4 separate regions of the Homo sapiens genome follow, and regions 1, 2 and 3 are each linked to region 4. Evidence: fine-mapped expression QTL. A gene starts in region 4. Each other region holds a variant in brackets. All regions are shown on one strand. Distances are between the middles of the regions.

Region 1 (5,154 bases), 430 kb before region 4:
AGAAGCAAGTCCAAAGAAATATATGTGGTATGGAAAGACTACCTTATAAAAAGATGAGGATTATGGCAAGTGACTCTTTCTCGATCTGCATCTGCTAATTCTTTGTCTCCTCCAGATGAATTCTGCACCAACTATGAATCTCTATCCAAAAAACATGAACCATGTTACAAAGAATTTTCCCCAAAATCACACACTCTAGAGCAGATCACACATTTAACCTGGAGAAAGGGCATTGGCTGACATTTCACACAATCTAGTCCTTCTTTATGTAAGAAATGGTGGGTCTTAAAATTCCACAATCTCCAATAGATACAAATGATCTGTTCTTAGAAGCTTCATCCAGTGCCTTGGGCTGATCCTGTATGGAACTGTCACATGGGAACTCCCTTAAAAAGGGTCATGACAGATAGAAGAGGCAAGAGGGATGCAGAAGTGAGGTTCTGGTGCTACCTTTACAATAGCCTTTTTAAAGCCGCGTTATTATCACATGATTCTGCTCCCCTTCCCTTTCTGAAGTATCATGGAAGAAGCCTCTTGAAGTGCTACTCTCTATAGCTTCCTTTGATCATCTTGAGAACCAACAGGAAACTTGGGCAAAATGAGAGCTCTCGTGATTGGGTCAGTTCTACTTCTGGATGGTTATTTTAATTTTTAAGGTTCTAAATTCTGTAATTCAGGCCAACCATGAAAGACAAATCATAGAGAAAATAAAAGTATATCTCATTTTCAAACCAAGGACCATGAACTCTGCATTAACCCCTTAACAATTTTTCACCCACTGCCCCCAACACCCTCCTCAGAGCCACGGTTTTGTGCCTTTTATATATTGGTCACCTTTAATTTTTTCATGTTCAAGGGAGCTGTCATCTAAGCAGCTACAAGAAACCTTTCCTTCTAATCTTGTTCAGTTCCCTAAGAAGCTAGATGATATTTAACACTAGCTTTTTCATAATACTTATTTTAGACAGGAACCTAGTAAATATCCTACAGTGAATAAATAAAGTAGTTATGTGGAAAGAGTGGGACGGGCTTTCAAACCAATACTGGTGATCTCATACTTAGAACATGTAAAAAAAAACACCTCTGTTTACTCTAAGGCCATAATTTCTCCTTATTTATTTATTTATTTATTTTCTGAGAGAGACAGAGTTTCATTCTTGTTGCCCGGGCTGGAGTGCAATGGCACAATCTCGGCTCACTGCAACCTCCACCTCCTGCAGGAGAATCAAGCGATTCTCCTGCCTCAGCCTCCCGAGTAGCTGGGATTACAGGCGCTTGCCACCACACCCGGCTAATTTTGTATTTTCAGTAGAGACAGGTTTCTCCATGTTTGTCAGGCTGGTCTCGAACTCCCAACCTCAGGTGATCCGCCTGCCTTGGCCTCCCAAAGTACTGGGATTACAGGCATGAGCCATGGCGCCTGGCCAATTGCTCCTTTCTTAACGTACCAACAGACATGCTGATAACTTTAAAATAGTTTTAACAGCAAAATGTCCCAGCAAATGTGAGTACAACCCATTAGTATCTAGTTTAATAAGAATTTCCCCACAAAAACAAAACCCAAAAAACTTGGATTAACAAGAGGCTATGTGAAGTTAAAATTGTAAGTGGGCAGTTGGAACCCTGTTAAAATGTCAAGTTTAACTATAAATTTCTCGCTAAAAAAAAAACAAAAACAAAAACAAAAATCCCAGTCTGGCTCTTAAATCTAGAAATAAGGTAGAATGTAGGCAATGTTAACCAAGGCACGAATCTGCTAAACTTGTGAAGGTCCACACATGGCTGGTGTCTGGGAGGTTGAAAGTTTCCAGCTCAACAAATGAAAGGTCATGTGTCCAGTTTTTTAAGATAACAGGCAATTACTGATTGAGATCTTAGTAATACTGCCTCACCCAGGTGAAAAACATCCAGAGGAAATGAATCTAGAGTTAAGAACTACTGTGAAGAATGGGCTCTGATTCTCACTAAATATTTAGCTTTATTAACTCTATGATCATGGCCCCCATGATAGACAAACTGCACAGTTTAACCCATATATTTTAAAAGGCCCACTACTGCCCCACTTCCCACCAAACTTAGTTTATTGAACATGTCCTTTAAAAACTGTAAGTTAGGGCTTTGCATATTAATGTTTAAAATAAGGAGCAAGTGGTGAGTTATTGCACCATAGATCACTCATATAAATACTCTTACCAAGTATATACTGCTCCATTATTTGTAGCTCTTTTTTTATCTTTTAAGAGACAGGATCAGGCTCTGTCATCCAGGCTGGAGTACAATGGCATGAACACGGCTCACTGCAGCCTTGATCTCCTGGGCTCAAGCGATCCTCCTGCCTATGCCTCCCCCAAGCAGCTGGGACTACAGTCATTCACCACCATGTCTGGCTAATTTTCTTATTTTATTTTGTAGAGATGGGGTCTTGCCATGTTGCCCAACTGGTCTTGAACTCCTGGCCTCAAGCAATCCTCCCACCTCGGCCTCTCAAAGTGGGATTACAGGCGTAAGCCACCACGCCTGGCCTATTTGTTGTTTTTATTGACCTTTCCTTGGTCACTGACTCTGGGATAGGATCTGGTT[G/T]TAAGTTAACTTGGCTATAGGCTAGGTTATGCTATGCTAACAAATAAACCCGAAAAACCAGTGTCTTAATACAACACAGGTTTACTTCTTGCTCATGCAAAATCCTCTGCAGGTCAGGCAATTCTCCTAAAATGACACTTGAGTGTCCCAGGTGTCAACCATCCTGTGTAACCACCATCTCAAACATGAGCTTTCAAATTGCTTCAGCAAGGAAAGGGAGAGCAAAGAGTGCTTACATGCAATGGTTTATGCTTTGACCACTTGCCTCAATCATGTAACAATCAAAGCTGAAAAATCCAGTCTTTCTTTGTTCCAGGGAAGATAAAAATGAAACGGAACTCAGTTAACTGAGGTCTGTCTTTGCCACAATGACAAGATCTATTGTGAAAATGATATGAGGTAGCTACTATTACCATCTCTTCTTATAATTGAGGAAACCAAAGCTCAGGGATATAAGTAACTTCTCCATAGCTAGAAAGTGATGGAGGCTCTCAGCAAACTAACACAGGAACAGAAAACCAAACACTGCATTTTCTCACTCATAAGTGGGAGTTGAACAATGAGAACACATGCACACAGGGAGGGGAACATCACACACTGGGGCCTGTTGGGAGGTGGGGGGCTAGGGGAGGGATAGCATTAGGAGAAATACCTAATGTAGAAGATGCGTTGATGGGTGCAGCAAACCACCAGAGCACGTGTATACCTACATAACACACCTGCACGTCCTGCACATGTATCCCAGAACTTAAAGTGTAAGAAAAAAAAAAGAAAAAGGATTTGTGGTACACAATTATCCCTCTAGGACCATATAAACCAGATTACAATGGCCTAAAATAAATTGATCTAAATTTTTTTTAAAATTTTAGCCAGTAAATTTTAAATATGTCATAAATCCTTTATTTCCATGAAATTTTAAAGAGGGTCTAGTGCTATATTAAGAGTTAAAAAAGATAAATCATGTCAAGTTTAAAATGAATAAATTTGGGTAGTCAAAGGAAAAAAAAAAGAGAAAGTGATGGAGGCATGTCTATTTAATTCTAGAGCTTCAACCTTTAACCATTATATTCTGTCTGCTGTTCATGCAGAACCTGCACCAGAGCATTACCATAAGGTTGAAGTCAGCAGAAAAGTTAAAATTTTTCTTTGGCATAAAATAAGGTTGTGTTCCAACTCTCATCTTTTAACAAGTGACTTAATGATATGTTATAAACTGAGCAAGATACATGTTCTTGCTAAAGAAAACAGAAAAACAAATATTCTTTTAAAAACTAATAGGTTTTATTATCCTAAACTAGAAATGGCTTTAGCAGACAACTGGAATGCTAGTTCATTATTATCAGAAAGGATTACAGACCAATGATTCCTAACCCTAAGCTTTGTTTCTGCATCTAACAATCTCATAAAATAAATTATCATATGTAGTTACCTTGGTGTACTTACCACAGATGATTTATCTTGAAGGGCATGTGAGAAAAGAACATTGCTCAAAACTAGGGCATTGCTCAAAGTTTCAAGGGAAATTTTTGCTTAAACTGGATACTTGCTTAGCCCACCATATTTAGCTAGGAATCCTCATAATGTTCCTGGAGTACTTACCCTACCACAGATCAACCTTCATTTTTCATTTTTCTTTTGCTTCTACTTTGAAGATCAACTGTTACTTAAACATATGTTCTCAATCCAATTTGCAATACAAAATATCTGCACTCTGATACTTCTTAGGTAGTATAACTTTGAACTCATTGCTATGTACTACTACTAAAAACTAAGCTGAAGCTAGGCACAGTGTCTCATGCCTATAATACCAGCACTTTGGGAGGCTGAGGTGGAAGGATCACTTGAGCCCAGGAGGAGTTCAAGAGCAGCCCGGGTAACATGGCGAAACCCTGTCTCAACAAAAAATACAAAAATTAGCTGGGCATGGTGCCACATGGCTATGATCCCAGCTACTCGGGAGGCTGAGGTGGGAAGATTGCTTGAGCCCAGGAGGTAGAGGCTGCAGTGAGCCATGATCATGCCACTGCACTCCAGCCTGGTCAACAGAACAAGACCCTGTCCCCCCAAATAAATAAATAAATTAATTAATTAATTAATTAAATTAAAAACTGAGTTGAGACATACAATATTTAGAGAGAACTGCTCAAAAGGCACACAGGCCATCCATTTACAGATATTCTAAAATCTAGCTCTTGGTCAAGTCATAGCAACAGAAGTCTAGGTACCTGAACCACACTGTAATGACTACGTAGGAACTGCTTTTACTGAATTGTACTTTGGTATGATAACAACAGTCCATGTAAAAGAAAGTCCCAAGAAACCACAGCTACCAAGACATTGTCTAGGAAGCTGTAACAGCATCCAAGAAAATCTATTCTGAGGAATGGGTTTATTTTATCTTATGAACCCAGTCACCTAGTGTCATTGACAACAGAGCTCAGAGCCAAATGTACAGCCTATCAACAGACAAGTATCAAATTCCCATTGCTACGCTTTCCCTGACTCCATTTTTTATCCATCTCCTACCTTTTTTTTTTCGTTTTTCTTTTCCTTCTACTTTTAATTTCTGTTTTA
Region 2 (5,154 bases), 230 kb before region 4:
GCTCTTCAAAAACTTAAGCACAGAAATACTACATGGTCTAACAATTCCACTTCTAGGTACATACCCTAAAGAACTGAAAGCAGGAACTCAAACAGGTACTTATACAAACATCAATGTTCAGAGCAGCATTAGTCACAATAGCCAAAGGTGGAAACCCAAATATCCAGCAAACAGATGAATGGGTAACAGATTAAGGACACAACATGATTCAGAAATTCATTCATTCAACTTGAAAATACTATGTAACATGAAATAAGCCAGACACAAAAAAGACTTATGATTCAACTTATGTGACCTACCTAGAATGGGCAAATTCAGAGATGGAAAGTAGACAGTGGTTATAAAGGATGAGGGGAGGGAAAATGAGGAGCTGTTGTTAAAGGGTACAAAGTTTCAGTTTCGTATGATGAAGAGGATTCTAGAGATAAATGGTGATGATGGTTGCGCAAGGATGTGAATGTACTTAATGCCACTGAACTGTACACTTAAAAATGGTTAAAACAGTAAATTTTTCATTATGTCTATTTTACCACAATAAAAAAAGTGGTGCAAAAAACTCTACAGGATAATCAAATAGATGTTTTCAACTGAGTTTCTACTAATTTTATCCACTCACTGGTTTTCAAGAGTTTAATGCCCTGAGTTCGCTCATCTTCTTCACCAATTCCATTTTCTTCCATAACATGGTTCTGAATTTCTTCATCCACATCCATGAGAGGTTTCAATTTCTCCAGAATTCGAGCAGTAAACTCAGGGACATGAGGCGATATGGTTGGTGTGGTATTTGGCAAAGATACATCTATCATGAATATGTAGGTCAGCACACTGCAAAATAAAATACTTAATAATAGGAAGAGGTGCCACATTATAAATAAAAATGAGGTTCAAAAGTTATGACCCAATCAAAGTAAACTGTCCCAAGACAATTCCTGGAGTGGGTCTTAGATTATGCCTGTGTGTAAAAGAAGCCTTATAATTAAGGGGTATTAACACTTAGGTGTTGTGACTGCTCATCTCTGGCTTCTGAGCACACTGCTGTCCTAGTTTACATTCAGAGTGTTTCATCTTGTTTCCCACGACACAATAGCAAACAATTTGAGAAAGACACCATGAAACCCACTGACAACATAACCAGCATGTATTATTACCTATTACAATTTAAAAAAAAACAAACAAAGAACTCGAGAGGTACACCACAGAGAAAACAGTACCTACCTTCCTATTCTTTCTCTGACATTTTTGTAAACCTGGGTGAGTTTGGGTTCCAAGTACTTCAGTAGTCTGTGCAATAGTTCAGGCACTCTCCATTCTTGCTGGGCAAGGCCACCTTGTAGTACATAAAGTCGACTAAAATTAAAGCATCGTAGTGTTATATTGGAGGCCCTTTCTGCCTTTACATATTGACAGTATGGACAGACAATATCTGTATTTCACTTAAAGCTTTTTCGTTTTTTCACTTAATAAATACTACAATATCCACAACTCAAAATAGCCTCTTTATGAAGATTTTATTTTTCCTATATCATTTTCTCTGTATTTGCATTTCATCCACACTACTAGAAAACTGAAAGAAATACTGACTTAAGAATACTCACTGACTAATATTTAAACATCACAATTCAAGTTTTCTCATTAATTAAGTGCTTCTTCTTTTTAATGAAATTATCCATATTACTATTGTCTAACTTTCTACAGCACCATATGCCCCAAACAAGGCAGTTTTTCCTTGAAATGATTACTCTTTCTTTGTATCTTTTTAACAGGAAAAAGTGAAAAATAAGATGTGATGAAGACACAAAAGTACAAAAGACAATTCTGATAAAATATTTGACAGCAAAGAATGCTGACTCTAATTTGTGTTTAAATTGCTCAGGTTGCCTACATCTCACTTACTTGTCCAACTAATAAATAACTCTTATTAAGTATCACATGTTATATGGAACCAGATCACATCACCTTCCAGAAGAAAGTAATTACTTCATCTAGACTTTACAAGTATAGACCATTCATTTCCATTTATACATAAGTTAACACAAAACCTTTCGTGTTAACCTCATAGGTTTTTTAAAAAAATTTACCATGCATCTACAAAGGATCCTCCTTCACCACTCAATGGTGATTCCAACAGCAGTTCAAAAAGCCAGTGAAGTTTCCGGGGATCTCTGCTTTCCTGTGTTTAAAATATGATGTAACAGTTCAACAGAGAACCTACAATTCTGTAAACAAATCATACTCAGTTATTTAATTTAATTTTATTTTTGAGGCTAGGTCTAACTCTGTTGCCCAGGCTGGAGTGAAGTGGTATGATTGCCTCCCAGGCTCAAGTAATCCACCCGCCTCGGTCTCTCAAGTAGCTGGGACCACAGGCATGCGCCACTATGCCTGGCTAATTTTTTATTTTTTGTAGAGACAGAGTCTCCCTACGTTGCCCAGGCTGGTCTCCAACTCCTGGCCCCAAGCTATCTTCCTGCCTCGGCCTCCCAAAGTTCTGCGATTAAAGTTGAGAGCTAGTGCACCCAGCCATATTCAATTATTTTAGAAATACTGAAAACATATATAAGTATAGTCG[T/C]CCCTTGGTATCTGTGGTGGATTGGTTCCAGAACTCCCTTAGGATACCAAAATCCACAGATGTTCAAGTCTGTTATGAAAATGGTGTAGTATTTACATATAACCTATGCACATCCTCCTGTACACTTTAAATCTTCTCTAGAGTATTTGTAATACCTAATACAATGTAAATGCTATGTAAATAGCTGTTATACTGTATTGTTTAGGGAATAATGACAAGAAAAAAAAAATCTGAACAGGTTCACTATAGACACAACCATCCCCCCACCCCCTTCTGAAATATTCTCCATCTCCTCAGGTTGGCTGAAACCACAGATGTGGAACTCATGGATATGGAGGGCTGACTGTACAGGAGAAGAAAATCAAACTAAAACTGATAGGTGACTCAAACTCAAATGTGACTATCGCAGTTCAAGTTAACAGTGAGAAAGCTGTTGTTAGCTAAATGGATTATCTTCAATCAAAGTACACGAGCTATGGACATATCTGGTATAAAAAATAATACCTATAACTTTGTATTATGTGGCTTTTACTATATGTAAGTGACATTTCCAAATACATGACTGTCACTTAATTTTAAAATGCATTACCACAGCAGAGAAGATATAATAATCACTTAAGAGTTACTTCTCAAGACTTATTTGAAAGGCTGAATAGAGCCATCTCCAATTACATAAGATGACAAAAGTATGAACAAACTTTCAAGATTCAAGAAGTGAGTTACCTCACTTAGAATAATAGTCTCTAATCCCATGGAAATAAAAAATAAAAACAATTAAAAAACAAAACCCAAAAAGATTTAAGAAGTGTTATGAGATTTCACACACTTTGAGAGACAGTATCAAACAGTTTGAATAGATCAGTTAGACAAAGAAAGATGTAGGGTAACTTACACAGGATGTTGCTATACAAGCTCCCCAGTCATTATAAGTTTCTACGGTAATATTGGACAGTGCTGTTCTAAGCAGAGGGCACAGAAGCTCCCAAAGCTTCTCCACCTACTCAAAACAAAATATATGGGTAAGAGTTAATGACACTCAGAACATTTTTCTTCAAATATCTTTCTTTACCTGGAAATGTACACACATACAGGTATATCATTTAAATTATTTTTGAGACATGGTCTCATGCTATTGCCCAGGCTGGAGTGCAGTGGAATGATCATACCTCGATGTAGCCTTAGGCTTCTGAGCTCAAGTGATCCACTCGCTTCAGCCTTCCAAGGAGCATGGACTATAGGTGTGTGCCACTATGCCCTGAAATATTTTTTATGTTTTGTAAAAACAGGATCTTGCTATGTTGCCCAGGCTGGTCTTGAACTCCTAGCCTCAAGCAATCCTCTCACCTTGGCCTCCCAAAGTGCTGGAATTATAGGCATGAGCTAGCATGCCTGGCCCTAATTATTTTTTAGAGCACCCAAATAATCCAGCAAAGTACATTATCACCATACATATCCAGGTATAGGTGAAATTTTTTCCCAAAAAATATTCAGAAAAGAGTAAATACTTTGCATGGCGCTTTAAAAAGTATCTCTTGGCTGGGTGCAGTGGCTCCTGCCTGTAATCCGAGAACTTTGGGAGGCCAAGGCAGGAGGATCACTTGAAATCAGGAGTTCAAGATCAAGCTGGTCACATGGCGAAACCATGTCTCTACAAAAAAAATAAAGATTAGCTGAGCGTAGTGGCACATGCCTGTAATCCCAACTACTCGGGAGGCTGAGGCAGGAGAATTGCTTGAACCTGGGAGGCAGAGGTTGCAGTGAGCCGAGATCATCCCACTGCATTCCAGCCTAAGCAACGGAGCAAGACTCCGTCTAAAAAAACAAAACAAAACAAATCTCTCATATGACTGATGTGTTCTTAAAAATCTTGTATAATAGTACGCTAGGCTGAAACAAAACCTCAATCAAGTTTTCCATGTTTATCAAGATCATTTGATTAAACCTTAAAGAGGCAATGACATTTTAATTTAATTTAGTAATCAGCCTGAGATATAATCTTCAAATTCCAAGTCTTGGATAAATAGCCCATAAAAACATGTACGTCGTACAGAGACTGCATTTACACACATAGATTTTCTCATAGGTTAATGAGCATACAAATCACCTTGAGGTCTTGATAAAATGCAGATTGATTCATGTCAAGTGGGCCTGAGATCTTACTTTCCTAAAAAGCTTCCAAGTGCTACCCCTGCTGCAGGTCCATGGACTGTATTTTAGTTAAAAAGGATATACCTTGATTTCATCATTACACATTGTGTGCATGTATCAAAATATCACATGTACCCCATAAACATGAACAGTTACTATTATTAATTTTTTAAGTTCCTAAAAAAATTTTGAATTTTTTTTTTTAAAAGAATGAATGAAGGCCAGGCACAGTAGCTCACACCTGTAATCCCAGCACTTTGGGAGGCCAAGGTAGGTGGAGTTCAAGAGCCAGGAGTTCGAGACCAGCCTGGCCACATGGAGAAACCCTGCCTCTATTAAAAATACAAAAATTAGCCTGACAAGGTGGCGCATGCCTGTAATCCCAGCTACTGAAGGTGGCTGAGGCATTGCTTGAACCCAGGGAGCAGAGGTTGCAG
Region 3 (5,154 bases), 55 kb before region 4:
TACTGTTTTATATATATATGTGTGTATATATATGTTGTTAGCAAAAATATATATAATACTGTTGTTTATAGGATACTGAATATTTGGCAGTTTGTAAGGTGAATGTGGGAATTACTCAAATGAGGAGTCAAAGCAGGGAAGGCCCTGGGTGATGTAATGAGGTCACCATTTGAGAGGGGATTGAGTGGCTAAGGCAGAGCAGAGGAAGAGAGGCTTTTGATTTGGTTATTAAATGCCAAACAGATGTGGTGTAGTAAATGTAAAGAATCAATGAACATTTGGAAAACAAATATTTTAAATTCATATTTCATGCTTTGGGATATTCACTTATCACACATAGAAAATAGGAGAAAATATTTTTCCCTTTGTGAATAATGCTTTGAAAATTCAAGTATTGGTCCCTGAGGGAGGTAGGGCATATGAAGCAATGATTGGTCTCTTCCTAAATTTAGTAAATATTGGGTCTTTGAAGATAATTCACATTAAATGGAGTGTTGGTGTTAACGCATGATACAAGCTAAAATGTGAATAAGCTCTGGACTTATTCTCATTGGTTCTTTTTGGGGGCAGGGTTATCAGTTTGTTTTATCAAAGTAGTACAAAGCTATATACAATATTAAATAGTACTACAAAGCTTATATTAAAAAAAAAAAAAGCAGTACCTTCTCCCTCCCCTCAGCTGTGCTTCCCAGGGGCTTTTAAATCTTCAGTAGTTTTTCCTGATATAAAATGCCTATCATTATACACCTATGTCTTCATTTACAAATTTTAGATATTATCTATTAACCCCTGACACACACATATTTCCCTCTCCTGTCATTCTAATATAATTCTAACTTCATTTCTAGTTAATTCAATATCGAGTATTTACATTATGATGTCAGTGTTGGTCATTGGTAACCCAAGTATTGTACTTTGACTACTTATCCTTCATTGTACCACCTGTAAGAGTTAAAGAAAGAGGAAAGAAACACAAAATGTGGCTTGGCAGTTAAGACAGGTTTACTTTAGATAAAACATGAGAGGGGCTTCTGGCTGATAATTTTTTTTTTTTTTTTTTTGGTCAGGAGCACTTTCTCTTACAGACTATATATTGGAGTATATATTGGTCTTAGGGTGAAGGGGCTTATTATAAGCTTGGAATGTTTCTGTGTGAGGGAGAAGTTTTATGGTGGGGTTGGAATGTCTCTGGGAGGAGGGATGTTTATCTTGGGGCAGACATCTTTCCACCCAGATGGGGGTTATCTCAAGGCTGGTATCTTCCCCACTGGAGGTGGGTTATCTCATGGCTAGCATGTCTCTGGTCACGGAGGGGTTTGGAAAGTTTCTGGTTGGAGATGTTATTTGTGGTTTATGGTCATGCTGGCCTAAGCCATTAGGCTGATGCCCTTTGGATTTAGGCAGTTTTTTATTAAGGTGAACTTTAGAATGAGGGGTTTGTCCAAGATGGTGATGTTCCTGCTGTATCACAACCTTTTGTTTTCTTTCTTTTGAGTTAAGAATTGCCTAGCTTTCCATCTTATCATTTTTCTTTCTTTCTTTCTTTTTCTTTTTCTTTTTTTTCTTTTGAGTTGGAATTTTGCTCTTGTTGCCCGGGCTGGAGTGCAATGGCTCAATCTTGGCCCACTGCAACCTCCACCTCCCAGGTTCAAGTGATTCTCCTGACTCAGCCTCTGGAAAAGCTGGGATTACAGGCGCCTGCAACCATGCCTGGCTAATTTTTTGTATTTTTAGTAGAGATAGGGTTTCACCATGTTGGCCAGGCTGGTCGTGACCTCAGGTGATCCACCCTTTTTGGCCTCCCAAAGTGCTGGGATTACAGGTGTCAGCCACCATGCACGGCGAGCATCTTATTATTTTTCTATCAATTCAACCAAATGTTTCGTTAGATTTTCAGATGCTGACTAATACTACATTCAACATTTCAGATAATCTATTTGTGGTCTCTGTCTTCCTGATCCTGTCTGGACTGGTTGCTGTCTTGATTGTCATCCCAGGACATTCCCTGTTTTCCATCTTCCATTTCTTTTGTTTTGTTTTATTTTGGTTAGGTCACTCCATTGGTAACAATTGTGCTGGGACTCATCCTTCAGTAGGGTGAGCAAGAGTGCATGGATGCCTTGTATGTTTACCTGCACAGTTGTTTGTTACTTAAGGATATGAATAGAGTTCTAGGATGAAAATAACTTCCTGTTAGAACTGGGAAAGGATTGCTTCATTGTCTTCTGAACTCAGTTGCTACCAGCAAGTTTGATGCCCATTCTGATTCCACATTCTTTTAATGTGCTTGCCTCCCATCCCCAGTCCTCTAGCAATTCCAAGTTTTTTCTTAGTTTCCTGAAATTCCATACTGTGACTTGGTGTAAGTCTTTTTTAATTCATTGGGCTGAGCACTTAATGGGACCTTCCAATCTGAAATTGTATGTCTAAATTGAATTACTTCAACTCTGGGATATTTTCTTCTTGGATTTATTTGAGGATTTCTTCCCATCAGTTTATTCATCTCTCTGTTTTCTTTTTCTGAAAATCCTATGAGTCAGATGTTGCACATCCTGGAATGAATATTTAAGCATCTTATTTTTTTCTCTCTTTTTGGCTATCTTTTTTATCTTTTGAGTTTACTTTCTAGATTCGTTTGCTTTTATCTTCTAATACTTTTATTGACTTTTTTTGTTTCATGGCCATATTTTTAATTTCTATAAACTTATTCTTGTTCTGATTATTCCTTTTTAAAAAATAATCATCTTCTTTTATGGATATAATGTTTTTTGATCTCTCCAATGATTCAATTATAATTTTAGTAAAGTTTTGTTTTGTTCCTTTTACTGTCTTTGTTTCTTCTGGGATTTATTGTTGAGGTTGGAGGCTTTCCTCAAATATCTTATAATCTTAGTTATCTATTTCTACTTTTAATAACCTAATTTATTAATTTTCTGCAGAGGTAAGTAGGTTC[T/A]ACTAATTTATTTGCCCAAATACATTTTATTTTGGTATGATAGAATTTTATCAGATTCTCTAGCCACCCATGTGTAGTCATAAGGCATGAAATGCTGCTTTTTATGCACAGGATGTTCTCAAATGCTTCTAAGTCCTCAGCCTTTTTGAATGCCTGCAGAGTAAAGTGCTTGGCTGCTTCTTGGGATCCACTGCTTTGAAAACAGATTTTAGCTTCTTTTGCTTGGTAACGTTATTTACCATTCTTTCATTTGTATCCTAGCTTTCAAATACTTGTTTTTTTTTGTCTGCTGATATTCATTTCCTACCTGCCCTTATGTTTTATACCATTTTTAGATGAAATTTCAGAAAAAAAGAGAAGACAAACACATTTAATTTATCTGCCATATATATTTTAATTAATTAATTATTTTTTCATAGAGGCATGGTCTCCCTATATTACCCAGGCTTGGTCTTGAACTTGTGGGCTCAAGTGATCCTCATGCCTTGGCCTCCCAAAGTGCTGGGATTACAGGCACAAGCCACCATGTCTGGCCAATCTGCCATATTTAGCTGGAAGTTCCTTATTGGTTTTTTATTTTGGCAATCCAACTTTTGGATATGAAGATGACTTTTATGTCTTAGAAATATTACATTATTAAAAATATGTTGGTTTTGACTTGCTGGGGTTATTTTCCTCCTTCCTGGTAAAAACACTTAATTCATTACTTTGAGCAAACTTCCCCTTCCCCAATTTGTGTGGTTCTGGTGGGGCTGCCCACCAGACATCAGCCCTCTGACCACAGAGGTGGACACGTGCTCTAATCTGGAAAATTAGTTTCACTCTCATGGGAGTATGACTCCTGAACAGAGACTAAAGTTGCTGATGATGTTGTTTTCTTACTGGTGAACCTTAGAGGGCTGGTCTATAATTGTACCAGCCTGGGTCCTTTGTTGGACATACTAGAAACCAACTCTGATTGGCTTTAGCATAAAAGGGTTTTAATGGGAGCCTATTGGTTAGTTCATGAAATTTATGAGAAGGTTTTAGAATCAGGCTTAGAAAATAATCAGTTACCATGCATGTTAGTTTCCTACAGCTGCTGTAACAAATGGCCACAAGCAGAGTGATGTAATACAACACATTTATTTTCTTATAATTCTGGATGTCAGAACTATAAAATCAAGGTCTGGTCTGGACATGGTGGCTCAAGGCTGTAGTCCCGTCATTTTGAGAGGGCAAGGTGGGAGGATTGCTTGAGCCCAAGAGTTTGTGACTACCCTAGGCAACGTAATGAGACCCTGCCTCTATAAAAAATAAAAACTTAACAGGGCGCAGATTACAGATGTGAACAACTGTGCCAGGCCTGTAAATGTATTTTATTAATATCTTACATAGTTAGATCATTATATTGGCTTTAAAGTGTTTTGCGTAAGTTGCATTGCCTCTGAATTCCATTTCAGGAAAGTAAAGGAGATATTACAAACTATTGTTATTAAAAGGGGGCATTGGGTCTCATAGAGCTCTAGCCAGAAAAAATAAGCACATTCCACAAGGCTTGAGGGAGTAACATCTGGGGGTTACAGAGTCTGTTTCTCACAGGAAGGCATGGGTTCTCTGGACCTGGGGTAGAGCTTGGGCTTGAACGACTCCCTTGCTACGGCTCAGGGGCTTCTCTAAACATCTCCTATTTGCCCTCAACATTACTTTGAGTCTGACCTCCCCAATCATACACCTGTTTTTATCTGGTAGATTATTTTGTAAGTGACCTCACATACCAGCCATCTCTATTCAGCCTCCATCTCATTTCCACTGTGACATTGAAAATAAGTATTTTTAGTTGCTGAGACCAGATCAACCTATATAGAAAAATAAATCTGGTTCCACTTTTACTTCCTATATAGGATATCATTAACATATTTTCCATATGAATAGGGACTGTCATGTACCATATGTTATTCATCATATGGCATCATGCCTGTTTCAAGGCACATTTTAATATAGCACAAAGGCAAAGAGTTTTAAACTGGAATGTCTGCTGTGCATTATGGTTTAGACTTTCTGGTTATCATGAAGCCTGATTAAGTTAGCTTTCTACATGTATACCATAGAATGAGCTCTCAACAAATTACCTAGAAAAGTTAACTTAGCAAGATAAATTTTGGGCAAAATAAAAGTAAACTCGTAGAATTTTAGCTCACTTTAGGCAAGGTCACAGAGAT
Region 4 (5,154 bases):
TGAGAAGCAGCCTGAATATGTAACAACAGGGACTCACAGTAGGTAAATGTGTGGTTTATCCACCTAATGTGATTTATTAAAATATTCATTGGAAAGACTACAACATGGAAAAGAAGAATAAAAGTTGCATTCATACTATAATTACTTAAAACATATATTAGAAACATTTGCGTACATTTTCTAAAGACTTAGAATCACATATTATTGGCAATCCATGCCGAAATGGTACATAAAAATTTCCGTTTGCTAATGTTAGACTGCTGGCAGACACAGCAAATTTTTCAGCTAAGCAAATGTCAATTGTTGCTATAGCACTTCTAAAATTCAAATAAACCTACCTAATAATTGGCAGGGGTACTCTTGGGTAAATGTGGAGAAAAGTCAAAGATTAAGAAAAGGAAAATGTCAACCTTCCCAGTCAGTGACTACTTAGAAGCTATGCTATAGTTGTCCGTTGTTATCTGCAGGGGATTGGTTCCAGGAATCCCCTTGGATATAAAAATCCTGGAATGTTCAAGTTCCTAATAGAAACATACATACACATATTGTCCTGTATGTTTTAAGTCATCTCTAGATTATTTAAAATACCTAATGCGATGTAAATGCTATTATACTGTATTGTTCAGGGAATGATGACAAGAAACAAGAGTCTGCATGAGTTCAGTAGAGATGACTTTTTTTTTTTTTTTTGGAGACAGGGTCTCGCTCTGTCACCCAGGCTGGAGTGCAGTGGCCCCATCTCGGTTCACTGCAACCTCTGCCTCCTGGGCAAAAGTGATCCTACTCCCACCTCAGCCTCCCAAGTAGCTGGGACTACAGGCACAGGCCACCACAGCCAGGTAATTTTTGTATTTTTTATAGAGGCGGGGCTTCACTGTATTGTCCAGGCTGGTCATCTCTAACTCCTGGGCTCAAGCTGTTCGCCAGCCTTGGCCTCCCAACATGTTGGGATTACAGGTGTGAGCCACCGTGCAGGCCAAGATACTTAAAAAAAAAAATTCTGTTTGAGGTTGGTTGAATCTATGGATGCAGAACCTGCTAATATGGATGGCTGACTGTACTAGTGGGGAAGGCACACTAAATAACTAGGATAAAATCTGGTAACCACTCGCAGAGATGACTGAGCGGGATAGAGGAAGATTTTGGAGAAGGGGGAGGCATTCCAGATAGAGTAGACCCAAGAGAAGAGGTTCTTTGTTTTAAACCTCTGTACTGAGAGAGCAGAATAACCGAGAGTGTCTTGACTATAGTTTAAATGCAGGATTTGCATAAGCAGGTAGTGGAGGCTGAAGACCTTAGGTTCTATTTTGAACGTATTAAGAAGAATGATTTAAAATTTATGTTGATTCTAGAGTCTGCATGGAATGAACTGGGAGATGGAAGAGTTAAGTTACGAGGTCTCTGCAATAAACTAAGACCTTCACTACATAAATTAACTGCACTAGCATTTCCAGAATATATTTTACTTTAAAAATGATTTAACCATATTCTAACCAAGTTTTGGATGATTTTTGGTGTTCTCTAATAGAATTGGCACAGTATATTGAATCAGATTGCAGTGGATTATTTTAACTGTGTGGCCAGATGCAGAGAAATATGCCAAGGTATTGAGGCCAACAAATAGAGAAATGCAAATTCTCACAAGTAAACAGATTTGGAATTCTAGAAGGTGGCAGATTATCAATAGCTGTATCCAGATCCTTTGGAGTGGTGGATGGTTTTATATTAAAACTTGGTAATAGCTCACCAGGAAATAAAATTCAGCCTTAACCTTCTAGGCAATTGGGATGTTGCTGAGAATAATCAAGACAATCAAAAAAAAAAAAAAAAAAAAAGGTCGGGTGTGGTGGCTCACACCTGTAATCCCAGCACTTTGGGAGGCCGAGGCAGGTGGATCACCTGAGGTCAGGAGTTTGAGACTAGCCTGGACAACATGGTGAAACCCCGTCTCCACTAAAAATACAAAAATTAGCTGGGTGAGGTGGCGCATGCCTGTAATCCCAGCTACTTGGAAGGCTGAGGCAGGACAATTTCTTGAACCTGGGAGGTGGAGGCTGCTGTGAGCTGAGATTGCACTACTGCACTCCAGTCTGGGAGACAAGAGCGAAACTCCGTCTCAAAACAACAGCAACAAACCCACACCAAAAAAACTGTATGAACAGCAGACAAGATGACTACAGTGTTTTTCTTTTGTCTGTTTCCACTAGCATAAAAGACTTCATATTTTTAAAAAGTTTCTTATCCCAGAAAATATCACAATCCGTTTAGAATACGAGTTCAGGCTCAATTCCTTCCTGACTGTACAGAAGAGCTCAAGATGTTGCAGACCTTATCTTAAAAGCTGGCTTGGTAGTCACCTAAACATTTCATAAATAATTTACTAACTCTCAAAACACTAAACACGCAGGCCCTTGATTTCAAAAGCCAATCTTGCTGGGATGGAGTGGGGTGGGGGACCTGGGATGGGGGATGAAAGGGGTTGGAAATGGGGAGATATTGGTCAAAGGGTACAAAGTTTCAGTTAGTGTGAATAATAAGTTCTGAAGATCTGTTGTCTAACATGGTGACTGCGATAAATGTATTGTGTCCTTAAAAATTGATGAGAGTAGATCTTAAATGTTCTCTTCATTAAAAAATGGTGCAATGGATACGTTAATTTCATTGATGTAATCATTTCACAATGCATACATATGTCAAAACATCACCTTGTACACCACAAATATACCCAACTTTTATTTGTCAATTACACTTTAATAAAGCTGGGGGAAGCCACTCTTTTTTTGGGCACAGCATCCGGCTTTTATTTACTAACTTTGAGAACAGAGTACCTTGATCAATTAAATGGTAGGGAGCGCTGTGGAGACAGCATCCTCCCCAGTCCGGGAAGAGAGGCCTAGGATGCCTGGGGCCCAGCGGCCTCTTCCCTCCTGGCGTCCCCGGCTGCCCTCGCTCCCAGGCCCCGCAGTCTCATTTGCCGCTTCCGACGCGTGACCCCGGCGCGCTAGCGTCCGGGACCGGTGACAGGCGCGGGGTGCGCCAAGCAGTCCCATGTGTCCCCTCCCTCTCGCAGCCGCCGCAGTCGCTGCGCCCCGAGCCCCTCTCCGGCTCCTCAACAGAGGGCTCGCCGCCGCCATGTCTACCGCCCAGTCACTCAAATCCGTGGACTACGAGGTGTTCGGAAGAGTGCAGGGTAGGAGGCCCCTCTACGGTGGGAGATCAAAAAGGTTATGGGAGGAAGGGGAGAAAGCTGTGAGAAGCGCCTCCCACCTAAAGTATGCCTTTTCCCGTTGTGGCTGGGACTTCCGCTCCGCCATGACACAGCAGCGGCGGCGGGGAGGGAGGCGAAACGCGCATGCGCCCGAGGACTTGGACGGGCGGAAGTACGGGAATGGGGAGGGAAGTGGGGGAGCGGGAGAGGAGGGGTCAGGGGACTGCTGAGGACCAGAAGTGGGCGGCTGCTGGGTGCGGGAGTAAGCGGCACGGGGGAATGTTGAAGTTGGGTAGGAAAAGAAGAGGGTCTTTTAACTAGTGGTCTCGTTGCTTGCCACTGAAGCTACCTGGGCTTGACTTGAGTTTTAGGAAGGACACTTAGATGGTTTAAGGTTAATTTTTCAGAGGTCAAACCTTTTTTTAGACCTCTTTGTAGCTCTTAAAAGAATGAAATTGTTATCTAATTTTTGTTTCATCCTAAGTTTAAGTAGTTGCCAAGTTTGTAATGTCTGGCTTGTTGAAAATATTGATATTTATAAATGAAAATATTAAGTCACTCTGAGATTTATGCAATGGAATATAAATAGGGTAGTGATTTAACATCCACCATCTTCATTTAAAATAAAACTCTTCAACAATGGGAAATTTTACTCATTTCTTTTCCTCTTTGAATTTGATTTTCATTTCACTTTTCCCACCGAATTACCCCATTGTTTTGCTTGAGGGTTTTTTTTTTTTTTTTGCTCACCCTATCATACTTTTCTGCAATATGTATATGTACATATATGCACATGTATGAATAAGTGTAATGCTTTTTCTTAATTTCCTTTGACAATAAGGCTCTCTTAGAAACAAATGCTGGTTCTTTGGTGCCAAAAAGAAGAACTAGCGCTCAAAGAATTTTCTCAGCAAGGCAATTTTACCTCTATAGAAGGGTGCGACTCGCGGATGAAGCAATGGCAACGGCACACCTGAACAGGGGAGGGGAAGGGGTTCTTATTCCTGATGCAGGTAGCCTCTACTGCTGTGTCTTTCCCCTACTGGCTAGGGTTGGACCGCACAGTCTAAGCTAATTCCGACTGGCTATTTTAAAGAGCAGGCGTACGAGCTCAAGTGGCGGGGTGAATAATTTGGCAGGAAGGGTGGTTACAGAACAGGTGACTCAGGATGATTCAGGTCAGAGCAGGTGACCAGGGGTGACTCAGGATGGAGCAGGTGACCAGAGGAATAGAGGTGAACTACTGATTAGAACTGGTGGAAAAGGTTGTTTACTGAAACTAGAGGCGAGGAGAACGAGGAAGCTAGACTTTAGAGCGCAAAGAACCGAGCATACTGACATACTGATTCTTTGAAGAGAAATTTAGAACTCATTGTATTCAACAGCTCCAAGTATTAAATTTTTTGTCTGGATGGAGTTATTATTGAAATTATTATTAGAACACTAGATGAAAATATAAAAAGTATGATAAACATTATTAAAATTTAAAGGTAAATTTGTGTTAGAAGTTTATTTTTTTAATTTTATTTTTTTAAGAGATGGAGTCTTGCTCTGTCACCCAGACTGGAGCAAGTGCAATGGCACAATCATAGCTCACTGCAGCCTGGAACTCCTGGGCTCAAGTGATCTTCTGCCTCAGCCTTCTAAGCAGCTGGGACTACAGGCTCATGCCACCATGCATGACTAATTTTTAAAATTTTTTTGTAGAGAAAGGGTCTCTGTTGCCCAGGCAAGTCTCGAAATCCTGGCTTCAAGGGATCCTCCTGCACTTCGCCTCCCAAAGTGATGGGATTACAGGCGTGAGCCACTGCACTCAGCCAGAAATTTATTAATGAGAAGACTGGGGGTGTTTATGGAACCTCGGTTGGTGGAAGAGTTGAATTATCCTTGTATTTGGTACTCTAGAGGTTTTTACACTTTGGTGCAGTGTACCAGGGTAAGATTAA

Alleles and levels. Positions count from the first base shown, and alleles are read on the strand shown. Sizes are in standard deviations (SD) of each study's normalised expression. Not every link is listed here.
For the expression in fibroblasts of the gene that starts at base 3,049 in region 4, allele C in region 2 goes with a lower level than allele T (small effect, 0.20 SD a copy in GTEx).

Evidence for each region. PIP is the estimated chance that this variant, and not a neighbour inherited with it, causes the effect. A credible set is the group of variants that fine-mapping cannot tell apart.
Region 1: its variant is the best candidate, but not a certain one, in a credible set for the expression of ACYP2 in stomach (GTEx, PIP 0.66).
Region 2: its variant is the best candidate, but not a certain one, in a credible set for the expression of ACYP2 in fibroblasts (GTEx, PIP 0.65).
Region 3: its variant is the best candidate, but not a certain one, in a credible set for the expression of ACYP2 in fibroblasts (GTEx, PIP 0.75).

Annotation. Positions count from the first base shown.
Region 1 is chr2:53,685,594-53,690,747 of GRCh38, forward strand. The region is part of intron 9 of ASB3 (ankyrin repeat and SOCS box containing 3); the gene reads right to left. All of the region lies in intron 9 of GPR75-ASB3 (GPR75-ASB3 readthrough), which reads right to left. Among named protein-coding and RNA genes, the nearest start is that of CHAC2, 80 kb to the right of the region's middle. The variant G/T (reference allele first, on the strand shown) is at 2,581.
Region 2 is chr2:53,886,643-53,891,796 of GRCh38, forward strand. It overlaps PSME4 (proteasome activator subunit 4), which reads right to left. Exons shown (of 47, transcript NM_014614.3): 37 at 3,462-3,566; 38 at 2,079-2,170; 39 at 1,216-1,347; 40 at 617-825. Among named protein-coding and RNA genes, the nearest start is that of GPR75-ASB3, 29 kb to the left of the region's middle. The variant T/C (reference allele first, on the strand shown) is at 2,570.
Region 3 is chr2:54,057,668-54,062,821 of GRCh38, forward strand. It overlaps a transcript of ACYP2 not described here. Among named protein-coding and RNA genes, the nearest start is that of ACYP2, 55 kb to the right of the region's middle. The variant T/A (reference allele first, on the strand shown) is at 2,954.
Region 4 is chr2:54,112,567-54,117,720 of GRCh38, forward strand. ACYP2 (acylphosphatase 2) reads left to right here and starts at 3,049. Exons shown (of 4, transcript NM_138448.4): 1 at 3,049-3,190. The coding sequence starts at 3,133. RefSeq lists silencers at 2,878-2,947, 3,438-3,497.